Homo sapiens: one gene and its partner. Changing the gene in region 1 together with any one later gene gives a genetic interaction. Each region holds a gene or a part of one and is shown in the gene's direction. Other genes may lie near its edges.

Region 1 (3,832 bases):
GTGAATATGAAACCATACAGCAAAACATGAATATTAAACTAATATTTCCTCTTTTTAATATATTTCTTTTTGAAACAGACATTTCCCCCAGATCTAAACATAGTAACCTATTTGTACTGTAATGTAAAATCTCCTATCATTTAATATTTGAACAGTTCATAGCTGTGAAGTTTAGTAATTATTTTTGTGATTCACTAAATACATCTCCTAGAAATAATGAAAGGGGGGGAAATGACAATTTATACAGTTATCCAAATTCTGTGTTCTTGAGTTTTCAGGATACTACATAGTCTGTTGCCCCTGTGTCAAAATCATCTGTGGATTCAGTTGACATCCCAAACTTTAGTTTGCTTTATGTTGCTGTGGGCCTTTCACACAAAAGTAGAACTCAGAGTTGATTGTTAGTAGATGAACATGATAAAAAAGATATTGGTAAAGAGAAGGACTATTTTTTGCTTGTTCTATTATCAGGCTAAATTGTTATATAACCTGTAGTCTAGGTTAGAATTTGTGTACCAGTATCTCAAGGAAGGTTATATACTCTTTTGAAATGGTAGAAGATCTGGGCTTAGGAAGGGACCTTTAGTCAAAATCACAAAAGGGAAAGTATTGTCTTATTTGTAAGAGAATTTTGGGAAATTGTAAGCCAGTGAGTATAGTGCAAACACTAGATTTAAAAAGACATGGGACACTTTTCTTTGTAGCAAATACTGATACATTAATAACATTCTTATCCAATGGATTAGCATGAATGGGGACTAGACTGGATTAAGAAAGAGGGTTGGAGGTGTAAGGGTGAAGGTAACTGTTGGTTCACAGGTACCATTATAAAAAGCATGGTATCTCAAACCTGGGCAGCACAGAGAACCACAGTTTATCTATCCAGTTCCCTTTACCAGTCCCAAACAGCCAAAACACTCACTCTGAGTGCACGTACTCTACAGCTAGCATTTTGTGTTTTTACTGCTTGCAGTACTTTAATTTTTACATTTTGCACAGATGCCATTATTTCCCCCTTTTTTTTTTTTTTGGTCTCTGATTAGTTTGCTACAATAGGAACATTTTGGTGAGTTTTTTTATTGCACAGACTTCAGAAGCTAAACAATCAATTACAGAACAAAAATCAGTTTAGGAAGGTATTGTTAAGTTGCTCTGAATTTACAGGAAGTGATATCACAGAGGGCCAGCAATGATCGGATTTAGAATATATGAGAATCACTTGGGAGCTGATTAAAAATGTAAGCTTCTGGCTTGTACTCCCCAGATATTCTGAGTTCATAGGGTGATGGGTCCCAGCTACATTTTAAACAAACACAATAGATGATTCTGATGCCAGTGGTCTACACACTTTGAAAAGCAGTGCTGCCGACAGTTGTATCAAGGTGCAGAACGTTTTGTGTAGTGTAGGGTAATGAGTAGAGCCATGAGACCATGACTGGAAAGTGCCTCCAGTATCCTGGGCAGTGAATTAGGTGTTTTGCCATACATTATTTCATTGGATCCTCTCGGTAATCTTGTAATTAATGTCATCTCCATTTTCAGATGAGGAAATTGAGTCACTCAGGTTAAATGACTTGCCTGAAATGATACACACTGGAACTCAGAGCTTCTGAGTTGAGTAATCTTGATGTTAACACAATATTGTCTCTTAAGATCTAGAACTTTAGCATAGGAACAAAACAAGTAGAATATCATTTTGACAAATTATTTTTCCCACCCCTTATTACAAGCCTAAAACTACTGACGTGACTACTGTGGTTTTGACAGTTTTTTATAGGACATGGAAACTAATTTTGAAAACTACTCAGTTGCTATGAATGAAACTCATTTACCTAGCCAAAACCTCCTTCATCTGTTCTTTCTCTTAAGTTGTATAGAGGTACTTCTTGGATCCCTTTCTATTCCTTACTTTGATATCTGGTAAAGCTCATGGTTTTAAGTGGCTTCTTAACGTTACCAATGAAATGACCAACCTTGGTATTGAGGTGAGGAAGAGTAGCTCTTTTCATCTTAAATGTTCTTGTCTGCCATGACATTAGCTGTAAAAACTACCACAATCAGCCTTCAAATATAAAAGCCAAAAGTCACTTTATTGTTAACTCTTAAGTCCAAGGCTTAAAGTCACCAAACTACAATCCCTTCCTAGCCTCCTGTAATCACAGTATTGTCAGAAGGGTCAAAGTTTGACACCTGCCACTGACCTATCAGTTTTTCAGATTTTAATTTTAAACCCCAGAGTGATCTATTGACCTGTGTCTTTGACTGTTATAATTGGTTAATTTGTAAGATTTGACATCTGATATTTGCTAACTTTTTATAGGGAGTTGTATTTGTAACGGAAGAAGAGAAGAATAAAAAATATTAGTTTTAAAAGTGGCCTATGTGACTGCTTTTCTAAAAAGGTATTTAATGCTCTTAGTACTTTGGCTTATCTCTTTGAAATAAAGCTAATACACAGGATTGCCTTCACATTGTTGTACTCTTCCTTTCTTGATTGATAATTGCATTGTCTTAGAGCCTAGAAATTGTTAATATTAGCTAAAACTACTTGGCTGCTCTATTAGAAGTTCCCTTTTTGTCAAATTTTTCTCAAACATGTTTCTGCCTCACAAGGAGCCCCAGGTATTCATGAGGTAATGGAGTACCTAAGAGGCCTAATTTTGTGGACACACTATGGTGAAATATAATTTTGGGGTATTAACTTCTCAGCTTCTTTCTTTAAAAAATAACCCCATAAGAAGTCATTGCCTATCTAGACATCCCAGTTGTTTGCTATTGTTTAAGCCAAGAAAGCTCTTTGGTTTGCTTTTATTCTAGGCTTAATGTTTATGTAACCTAAACATTCCCCAATCTTGTTTCCTACAGGTAGACTGGGTACAATGTGATGGTGGCTGTGATGAGTGGTTTCATCAAGTTTGTGTGGGTGTATCTCCAGAAATGGCTGAAAATGAAGATTACATCTGTATAAACTGTGCAAAGAAGCAGGGGCCAGTTAGCCCAGGTCCAGCACCACCTCCTTCCTTCATAATGAGCTACAAACTACCAATGGAGGATCTTAAAGAGACCAGTTAGCAGATGCTTGGTTAGTTTGGGACATGGGGGGACATGGACCACATTGAGACCTTAGTCATCAAGTAGAGTGGTTTATATCCACTTGGAATGTTGCTTCCAAAGATGAATGGCCTTCAGAGAAAGTCCCCTTAGTGCTGGCTTCCTCTTTGCATGGACTCTGTGGGTTACATTCTCTATCAACATATCTATGCAGAGGGTGTCTTCTTTGGTACAACAGCCAATATTTCATGTCTCCTTTGAGTGTGGTTTACTGCATTAAGGCCAGATGCTTAATTGAGCTCTAGGGTGGCTGGTTAGTATTAATACATTGGTGTGCTAACAGGGCATATAGGATGTGGCTTTTGTCCAGCTGATAGTAGTTAGAGGCTTACAACTTAGGAGCAGCACCAACTGAAGGTGCTAATTGCTTGGATCTCCTTCATTGGGATAGTTGGAGAGGGATTGGAGTACCACTTTCCTTCCACTGTTACCTGGTACTTAATGCCCTAAAGATACAACTAGGAGTAACAGGGCCAAAGTTATTTCTGTTAGACGTCAAGGAATGGTATCACAGTCTATTGACCTCAGCGATTTGTGCTTGTTTGTGCTAGAAGAACATCCCAAATAGGAGAACCTCTCACAAGCTGGGGCAGGTCACCTTATCTTTGTAAGATGAGGATATCATCTAGATCAGAAATCTGACTAGATTGGATTCTGAGGAGAAGAACCTACTACAAGGCAAGGAGCCGTTTTTTGGCTTTGAAAAGTCTTGCTGTCTTGG
Region 2 (3,378 bases), on another chromosome or scaffold:
ATTCTCAAACACAGCCATGTTTTTCTTACCACCTACTCTTAACCAGAGATCACTGTCCACAATTTCATTCAAGTAGAATTCCATGATTATACTAAAGCAGTACAGTAAATACCACTATCTCTATTGAATACGTTTTTCTCTTGTATAAAACAGGTGGAGGTTTTTGATCTGCTTTTTGTCACTAATGAGAGTAATTCACGAAAGACCTACATAGTACATTGCCAAGATTGTGCACGAAAAACAAGCGGAAACTTGGAAAACTTTGTGGTGCTAGAACAGTACAAAATGGAGGACCTGATGCAAGTCTATGACCAATTTACATTAGTAAGTCAAATCAACATGTGAGTACATAGTTAGCTGGGTTATGAAGCAGCAGTGTTTGCTCTGCCACCTGATAAGTAGGAGGTAATGAAATATTTTAAATTTTCCTTTGGCTCATTATATATTGCATGAGGGTATATTCATATCATTCCCCCCTCCATTTCCAAGTATTTATTCCTATAAAATTGGCATATATCATTTTCAGTTTTCCTGGGTGAGACCAGCCTAAATAATTTTACAACAATTACATTTAAAAATCTTTGCGTGCTTTAGATAGAACACTATCATATCCTTTATGTCATTTTATCTCAGTTGATAAAATGTTTGTGTACGTAGGTTATTAGAGCCCACAAAATGAATCAGTAAGTGTGCTTTTAAATATACTTCTGCTTTTAGAGCTAATTGTATTTGTTTAAAATTTTGTCCTTGCCAGAAGTATTAACCTCATGGGAGTATTTAATGGAGCTTAACTTCCTGGTATATTATGTAACCTTATGAAATTCAAGTATACTTATAAATTGCACAGTTTTTAATTTCAGACAGCAGATGCTTGGGGGAAGCATTTTACTTTCGCAGATCAATAGCTTTATGAATAGAAACACAGAGATAATTTATGAATTGTTGATTTTCTCCAGTACTTGTCTCCCACACATATGTGATCAGAAACTAACTTTTTGAAATTTACTTTCTGATATTTTCACTTGAATGGTCTTCAAGATTGCTTGAAGAAGAAAATTATCTGAAATATGTTGAAGAAAATATATTACCTAGCTGAGATAGATTCTGAAGGCAGTCACTAGTGAAATTGTAATTTGTTAAATTATTTTGCAAGAAGCCCCCTTTTTTTAAGCAATCTTAAAAAATGGTAAACGTAATAACATTCCAAGAGTTTTTGACTAATTGGTGAAGAAGTATAGAAAATTGCAAGTACACTGAGTAGGATAATGGTCTTAGATTCTTAGGAAGATTGGCTGAATGGGAGATAGTAAGGTAGGCTGTACTTTTATGTTGCATAGCAGGCTGTTGAACTTTTTGAGAGTTATTTCCCCTAACTTCACAAGCAGACTATATGTTTGTAGCCATGAGCTATTAACAATTTGTATATCAAAATAACCTACCTTACTTTTATTTTCAGGCTCCTCCATTACCATCCGCCTCATCTTGATATTGTTCCATGGACATTAAATGAGACCTTTTCTGCTATTCAGGAAATAACCCAGTTCTGCACCACTGGTTTTTGTAGCTATCTCGTAAGGCTGCTGGCTGAAAACTGTGTCTATGCAACCTTCCAAGTGCGGAGTGTCAACCAACTGGACGGGAGAGAGTACTGCTCCTACTCCAGGACTCTCACAAAGCTGATGAGCTGTACTTCAGAAAAAAATAATAATTTCCATGTTTTGTATATATCTGACAAAACTGGCAACATCTTACAGACTACTGACTTGAAGACAACCTCTTTTATATTTCTCTATTTCTGGGCTGATGAATTTGTTTTCATCTGTCTTTTCCCCCTTCAGAATTTTCCTTGGAAAAAAAATACTAGCCTAGCTGGTCATTTCTTTGTAAGGTAGTTAGCAATTTTAAGTCTTTCTTTGGTCAACTTTTTTTTAATGTGAAAAGTTAGGTAAGACACTTTTTTACTGCTTTTATGTTTTTCTGTCTTGTTTTGAGACCATGATGGTTACACTTTTGGTTCCTAAATAAAATTTAAAAAATTAACAGCCAAGTCACAAAGGTAATGGATTGCACATAGACTAAGGAATAAACTTCAGATTTGTGATTTTTGTTTCTAATCTTGATGTAAATTTACACTATTTATAAATACATATTTATTGCTTGAAAATATTTGTGAATGGAATGCTGTTATTTTTTCCAGATTTACCTGCCATTGAAATTTTAAGGAGTTCTGTAATTTCAAACACTACTCCTATTACATTTTCTATGTGTAAATAAAACTGCTTAGCATTGTACAGAAACTTTTATTAAAATTGTTTAATGTTTAAAGAGTTTTCTATTGTTTGAGTTTTAAAAAAGACTTTATGTACAGTGCCCAGTTTTTGTTCATTTTTGAAATCTGATTATATATATTTTATATATACTTATGTATGTATATATAATATATATAGAAATCTGGATATATATGTATAAATCTTTAGAACTTAAATTTTTCTCGTTTTAAGTTTCACATCTATGGTAGATTTTTGAGGTGTCTACTGTAAAGTATTGCTTACAAAAAGTATGATTATTTTTAAAGAAATATATATGGTATGTATCCTCAAGACCTAAAATGTCAGACTGGTTTATTGTTAAGTTGCAATTACTGCAATGACAGACCAATAAACAATTGCTGCCAAAATGTAGTATAATAGTAGAAAACAAATAGTGATTGAACTTAAGATTTTAAAGGGACTGTTATATGGGCTTGACAAATCCTGTACAATACTTAGTACCATTTTATATGGAAAAGGGGATTCAGGATGAAGGGCTCTATTTTAGAATGCAAATAAATTAAGAGACTTATTTTTTAATGTTAGGCAGTTTTGAAATCTCATGCTTTTTTGCTTGCATGACATGATTTGGGGGAGGAGTGCTGCAAATTCCCTATCACTAGTAAAATATAGCAATCTATATTAGCATTCACAAGTCACTGCTAATTAATGATAGTATTTCATTTTGTAATAACAGCACCTTGCATTTGTACCTCCATTTTCTGACGCATTTGACACATACTCTCATTTAATCATATTGTTCTTTGTATGAATTTTCCAGGAAGCATTAGTGAAGAAGCATAGAGAATGCTGTAAATCAAGATTATATATATATATGGCTAAAGAGAGCTTATTCTATCTAGTGAAATGCCCTGCTGATTGCATTAATCACATACTCTTTCAGATTTAGAGTATGTTATCCTCTTAGAAACAGTTTGAAGGTTGAAAGCATGGAGATACTTTTTTCGATTAGTTAATAATTTGGTAAATATTGGCTATCTACTAGAAGTAATCATCTCTTATTTATAATTTAAGGGAAAAATGCCAAATCTATTTTAATTATGGAGCA

Evidence for each region.
Region 2: changes in KDM5A (region 1) and KDM6A together harm fitness more than expected from each alone (negative genetic interaction), as found in Homo sapiens cells (one large-scale study listed by BioGRID).

Annotation. Positions count from the first base shown.
Region 1 is NC_000012.12:284,696-288,527, reverse strand, and holds part of KDM5A (lysine-specific demethylase 5A), read left to right. Parts: intron 1-2,865; coding exon 2,866-3,072; 3' UTR 3,073-3,832. UniProt on the Homo sapiens protein: Histone demethylase that specifically demethylates 'Lys-4' of histone H3, thereby playing a central role in histone code. Does not demethylate histone H3 'Lys-9', H3 'Lys-27', H3 'Lys-36', H3 'Lys-79' or H4 'Lys-20'.
Region 2 is NC_000023.11:45,109,926-45,113,303, forward strand, and holds the end of KDM6A (lysine-specific demethylase 6A), read left to right. Parts: intron 1-153; coding exon 154-324; intron 325-1,456; coding exon 1,457-1,486; 3' UTR 1,487-2,854; downstream 2,855-3,378. UniProt on the Homo sapiens protein: Histone demethylase that specifically demethylates 'Lys-27' of histone H3, thereby playing a central role in histone code. Demethylates trimethylated and dimethylated but not monomethylated H3 'Lys-27'.